2 separate regions of the Homo sapiens genome follow, and region 2 is linked to region 1. The links come from fine-mapping of genetic effects on gene expression. A gene starts in region 1. The other region holds a variant in brackets. All regions are shown on one strand. Distances are from middle to middle. Region 1 holds the start of SAMD11 (sterile alpha motif domain containing 11). Region 2 overlaps PLEKHN1 (pleckstrin homology domain containing N1).

Region 1 (2,789 bases):
ACCCCAACAGACCAACGAGCCCCCACAGAACAGGGCCAGGATAGCGGGGGAGGCTTCTGGGCATGTTCCTTGCCTGAGCAGAGCACTCCTGGCCCAGACCTCACTCCGCGGGTTGGCTGTGGGACCAGCAGAAGCCTCTGGTGAGATAAGGTGAAGGAGCCCAGCGTGGTCACCCAGGGTCAGGTTTATGCTCAAGGAAGCTGGTCTGGCAGGAGGTGGTGGTGGGCTGTTCCCTCCCTCGAAGAAGGCACCTGTGCAAACAGGCCTGTGGCCCACTCACCCCTGGACCTGCTCTGGGAGATGCCCACAGGGACATGCCAGCTGCATCTCAAGGGCAGGGGCCAGGGTCAGAACAGGAGGCCCCTTTCTAGTGGATGCAACACCGCACAGCAGCGCAGGACAAGGCTGTCTCACCTGCTGTTACCAACGCCCCCAGGTTGTGTTTCTCTTCGGAACGCTCCAGATGCAATGCCGATCTGGGCACGCAGGGAGGTGGGGGGTGATGGGAAGCTCACCAGGAACCAGGGACTGGGGCCCAGACTGACCTGTCAGAAGGCACCAAGGTGGACGTGGTGTGGCCGGTCCTGCTTCACTAGCCTTGCTCCTCCTAGTGGGAGGCCGTGCACTCTGCCAACCCGCTATCCCCCACCCTCACCCTGCCTCGGATCCACACCACCTTCCTGCTGGGAGGTGTGGGGTGACAGGAAGCTCTTGCCCCACACCATGGTCCTGGCGCGGTCCTGGTGTGAGACATCCTGCATTTGAAACAGCTGTGTGACTTCAGGAGAGTTACTTGACCTTTCTGTCTCAGCGTCTTCTGCAAAAGACTGAACAGGAACTCCGTGGCTCGGGCGAACTCACTCCTGTCAAGTGCATAGGAAGGGGCACGAGTGGGCGGGGAGGTGCTGCCCTGTTATTCACAGAACACTTTGCCCAGGCAACACACTACAAATCCACAACCTCGCTCCCTGCAGGTGCACTGAGACCACCCACGCCCTCCCGGACACCAACGCCCACCATCAGATTCGCTGCGCAAAGTCCCAGAGCCGCCGGCGCACGCTCACACCCCGGCGAGCAGCCCCCAGCTCCCTCCCTCCGAGAGGAGCCCGGTCCGCGACCAGCCCAGCCCATCCCAGTCCCGCGCGGAGTCCTGGATTCCAGCCGCTCGCAGTGACTCGGTACTCGGGATAGTGCCGGGGGCCGCAGCCCTGTCCCGCTGCCGCCGCCGGATGCCCCGAGTCGGCCGTCACGCACCCCCCGCGGGAGCCCGCGCCGCCCGCCGCGCCGGGGCCGTTTAAATGGGCCAAGTTGTGGCGGCGGCGTCGGCGGCGGAGTCTCCCAAGTCCCCGCCGGGCGGGCGCGCGCCAGTGGACGCGGGTGCACGACTGACGCGGCCCGGGCGGCGGGGCGGGGGCTTGGGACCCCCGAGAGGGGCGGGGACTCCGCGACTCCTCGCTGCCGGGCTCGGCCTGGCGGGTGGGTCGGCGAGCCGGGCGTGGGACTGCCCCGGGCGCGGGCGCTGGTGGCCGGGGCGCGGGACTCCAGACGCCCCGGGGAGCCCCGAGGCCCTGGAACTGCGGCGCTCGGCGAGTCGATCCGGGATCGATAGCAGCTCCATGTCTCCGGCCTCTGAGGCCCCGCCGGCCGGCTGGGCAGTCCGGGGAGGCCTGGCGGGCGGCGCGTAGGCGGCGGCTGCGGGCGCCGGGGCGCACTAGCGGACGGCGTGGGCGCGCGGCCAGGCGCCTCCCCGGCCCCCGCGACCCAACTCCAGCCCGGGCCGGAATAAGTTGCTGCCGCCGGCGGAGAGCGGGGCTGCGGAGCCACCGGGGCGCCATGCCGGCGGTCAAGAAGGAGTTCCCGGGCCGCGAGGACCTGGCCCTGGCTCTGGCCACGTTCCACCCGACCCTGGCCGCGCTGCCGCTGCCGCCGCTGCCAGGCTACCTGGCGCCACTGCCCGCGGCGGCCGCCCTCCCCCCGGCCGCCTCGCTGCCCGCCTCGGCCGCCGGTTACGAGGCTCTGCTGGCCCCGCCGCTCCGCCCCCCGCGCGCCTACCTCAGCCTGCACGAGGCCGCCCCGCACCTCCACCTGCCCAGGGACCCGCTGGCCCTCGAGCGCTTCTCGGCCACCGCGGCCGCGGCCCCGGATTTCCAGCCGCTGCTGGACAACGGCGAGCCGTGCATCGAGGTGGAGTGCGGCGCCAACCGCGCGCTGCTCTACGTGCGCAAACTCTGCCAGGGCAGCAAGGGCCCGTCCATCCGCCACCGCGGCGAGTGGCTCACGCCCAACGAGTTCCAGTTCGTCAGCGGCCGCGAGACGGCCAAGGACTGGAAGCGCAGCATCCGCCACAAAGGTGCCGCCGCCCCTCCCTTCGCTGCCGGGACCCGCGGGCCCCGACCCCACCCCCTACCCGACTCGGACACCCGGGAGCCTCCGGCTCGGCCGAGGGGGCGCTGCAGCTCCAGGGCTGCGCGGGGACACCCCCGCCGCGCGCGGAGGCCTCGGTGAACACGGACAGATCGCCCCCCGCTGCACCTCCCCCCAGCTTGGGCCACAGCGCTTGGGGCTCGCGGGCCGCTCCCTCCGCTCGGAAGGTCTCTGCGAGGCTCCTGGGCCTTAAGGCCCGAAGGAAGTTTACGGGGACTCGAGAGAGCGGGCAGGAGGCGGGTTGGGAGGGCGCGGAGCCCCGGGTTCGGGGGAGACTGGAGGGGCGCACGTGCGGCCGGGTGCGAGCGCGCGGCGGGGGAGGCTGCGGGGCGGCGCGGGGGCGCGCGCGGAGCCCGAGCGGCGGC
Region 2 (2,789 bases), 52 kb after region 1:
GGGGGAGTCTCTGGGGCCCTGAGTTCAGAGCCCGTCCCTCAGCTCCTGTTCCTTGGTGCCAGCAGCTGGGGCAGGGAAGGGTGGGAGGGGCCCCATCCAAAGGATGCCCTGGCCAGCGAGGCTGGGTCACAGGTCAGGGAGGTCCTGGCCGTCCACAGGGTCGGCCCTCAGCTCAGCCCGCCAGGAGTCAGGGAGGAGACTCGCTGGGAGTGGGAGGGCAGCACGGGCGTGAAGGTCGGAGGACAGAGAAAGGTCAGCAGGGTCAGAGTATGTGAGGTCAGAGGGCATGAGGGTCACAGGTCAGCAAGGTGTGAGGAGCACAAGCCAGGGTGCCCCGAGGAGGAGGGTGGGTGGGTCCTTGTGTGGCCTGGCGCGCACCACAGGGCAGCACGGGAGACGTTGACACCACCGGACGAGAAAGAAAAAAGAGAGAAGAGAGAGAGGAGAAGAGAGAAAAGAAGAGAAGAGAGAAGAGAAGAGAAGGAAAGAGAGAGAGAGAATAAGAAAAGGAAGAAAGAAAAAGAAAAGATAGAATTTTATTGGTGCTGCATCCATGTGTTCTCTGCTCAGCAGCCAGGGTCTCCCACAGTCTTGAGGACCCCCACCCAGCACCCAGCCAGGCAGCCCCCTTCCTCTGCCACCTCGGGCCCCTCACCGACCTTCCCACCTCATCTCTGACTCCTCTTGGCTGTGGGTCCCCAGCTGCCCCACAGGAGCCCCCGGGACAACCCCAGGAGCCCAGCCCTCCATCTGAGGCCACCGAATTCTCCCTCTGCACCTGCACCCAGGGCTCCCGGGGAGGGGCTCGCGGCTCTGCCACAGACCCCCACCCTGCAGGGGCTGCTGCACTGGGGAGGGGCAGGCAGAGCCTTCGCTGTCTCAGGCCAGAGCCCGCAGAGGCCTTGGCCACAGTCCTTTGAGGATCAAGAGTGATGGGCCTTGGAGCCCTTGCCAGCCCAGCCCACCTGTGAGGAGGCTGCCCATCCCCTCTTTGAGGCCACCCTGTGTCCTCTCCCCTGCCTCTGCCCAGAGCTCCAGCCGGAGTGTCTTGCTGCTCAGACCCCTCCGAGGTCCAAGTCCTGTCCTGCCACTCAGCTCCCCCTGCACCCCAGAAGAAACGCAGGGTGCGGTTGCATTTGATTTCAGATAAACAACAACTTCTTAGTAAAATGACCTCCCCACTATTGCCTGTCTGAAATTAACCGAATGCCCTGTGTTCTCATCTGTGAATCTGGCCACCCTCCTACCCAGCCACCTGCCTGCCCTCCACCCACCCAGACTTTAGCACCTCCCTCCCAGGCGTGGGGAGTGGCCGTGGTCACTGGCTGGATCCTCAGGTGAGTCGGAGGGAGCAGCACCAGGACACGCCCCCCTCCTGGACGCGGTAGAAGAGAGGGGTCAGAGGGCCCGGGCGAGGGCGGCACCTCGTCCTGCCCTGGGCGCCTGTGGTCGTCTCCTCATCCTGCATCTCCCTGGCCCGGGCCTGGCTCCTAGGAGCTGGGGCTGGGGCTGTGGCTGCGGCGCCCTTGCCCC[A/G]CCTGCCGGCGGAAGTAGCGGATGGCAGAGATGGTGCCGACGTTGGCCAGCAAGGCTGCAAGAGAAGCACAGGCTCTTCTGAGGGCCAGCCTGGCTGTCGGCACCGTCTGCCCGCAAGACCCAGCCCTCAAAGGGCGGGCAAGGTCGGTGCGGCCAGGGCCGCAGCTCAGCCTGGGGGGAGCAGGTCAGGGGTGAGCCCCGGGGCCCCCGTGCACCCCTCGTCCTGCCAGCGCCCCTCGGTCTGGCTTCTAGGCGCAGCTCCCTCTGCCCCCAGGCACCCAAACCTGTTTTCCAGGCGTCTGGGGTATGCGGATCTGACGTCCTCACAGCCCAGGTGGCAAAAGCTACAAACACCAGGCACATGTCATTCTGGCTGAAGGCAAATGATGGGACAGGCCCCCGGAGCTCCCCTAGGACAGAAGCTCACCTTCAGCCCCACGGCTGCACTCAGAGATGGCCCCGCACACGCCCGCCCCGGGAACCGCCTGCCCCCACCCCCACCAACCCCGGGAACCGCCTCCCACTCCCCCCGCCAACCCCGGGAACCGCCTCCCACTCCCCCCGCCAACCCCGGGAACCGCCTCCCACTCCCCCCGCCAACCCCGGGAACCGCCTCCCACTCCCCCCGCCAACCCCGGGAACCGCCTCCCACTCCCCCCGCCAACCCCGGGAACCGCCTCCCACTCCCCCCGCCAACCCCGGGAACCGCCTCCCACTCCCCCCGCCAACCCCGGGAACCGCCTCCCACTCCCCCCGCAACCCCGGGAACCGCCTCCCACTCCCCCCGCAACCCCGGGAACCGCCTCCCGCTCCCCCCACCAACCCCGGGAACCGCCTCCCGCTCCCCCCACCAACCCCGGGAACCGCCTCCCGCTCCCCCCGCAACCCCGGGAACCGCCTCCCGCTCCCCCCACCAACCCCGGGAACCGCCTCCCGCTCCCCCCACCAACCCCGGGAACCGCCTCCCGCTCCCCCCACCAACCCCGGGAACCGCCTCCCGCTCCCCCCACCAACCCCGGGAACCGCCTCCCACCACCCCGCCAACCCCGGGAACCGCCTGCCCCCACCGACCAACCCCGGGAACCGCCTCCCACTCCCCCCGCAACCCCGGGAACCGCCTCCCGCTCCCCCCACCAACCCCGGGAACCGCCTCCCGCTCCCCCCACCAACCCCGGGAACCGCCTCCCGCTCCCCCCACCAACCCCGGGAACCGCCTCCCGCTCCCCCCACCAACCCCGGGAACCGCCTCCCGCTCC

Evidence for each region. PIP is the estimated chance that this variant, and not a neighbour inherited with it, causes the effect.
Region 2: its variant is fine-mapped to the expression of SAMD11 in caudate (GTEx, PIP 0.94).

Annotation. Positions count from the first base shown.
Region 1 is chr1:922,599-925,387 of GRCh38, forward strand. It overlaps SAMD11 (sterile alpha motif domain containing 11), which reads left to right and starts at 1,325. Exons shown (of 14, transcript NM_001385641.1): 1 at 1,325-2,350. The coding sequence starts at 1,834. It overlaps LOC107985728 (collagen alpha-1(III) chain-like), which reads right to left. Exons shown (of 5, transcript NR_168405.1): 2 at 677-863; 3 at 415-545; 4 at 74-137. RefSeq lists enhancers at 370-948, 2,614-2,789.
Region 2 is chr1:974,682-977,470 of GRCh38, forward strand. PLEKHN1 (pleckstrin homology domain containing N1) reads left to right here. Exons shown (of 16, transcript NM_032129.3): 16 at 1-1,184. It overlaps PERM1 (PPARGC1 and ESRR induced regulator, muscle 1), which reads right to left. Exons shown (of 4, transcript NM_001394713.1): 3 at 1,818-1,943; 4 at 517-1,588. The coding sequence ends at 1,491. Among named protein-coding and RNA genes, the nearest start is that of PERM1, 6.0 kb to the right of the region's middle. The variant A/G (reference allele first, on the strand shown) is at 1,534.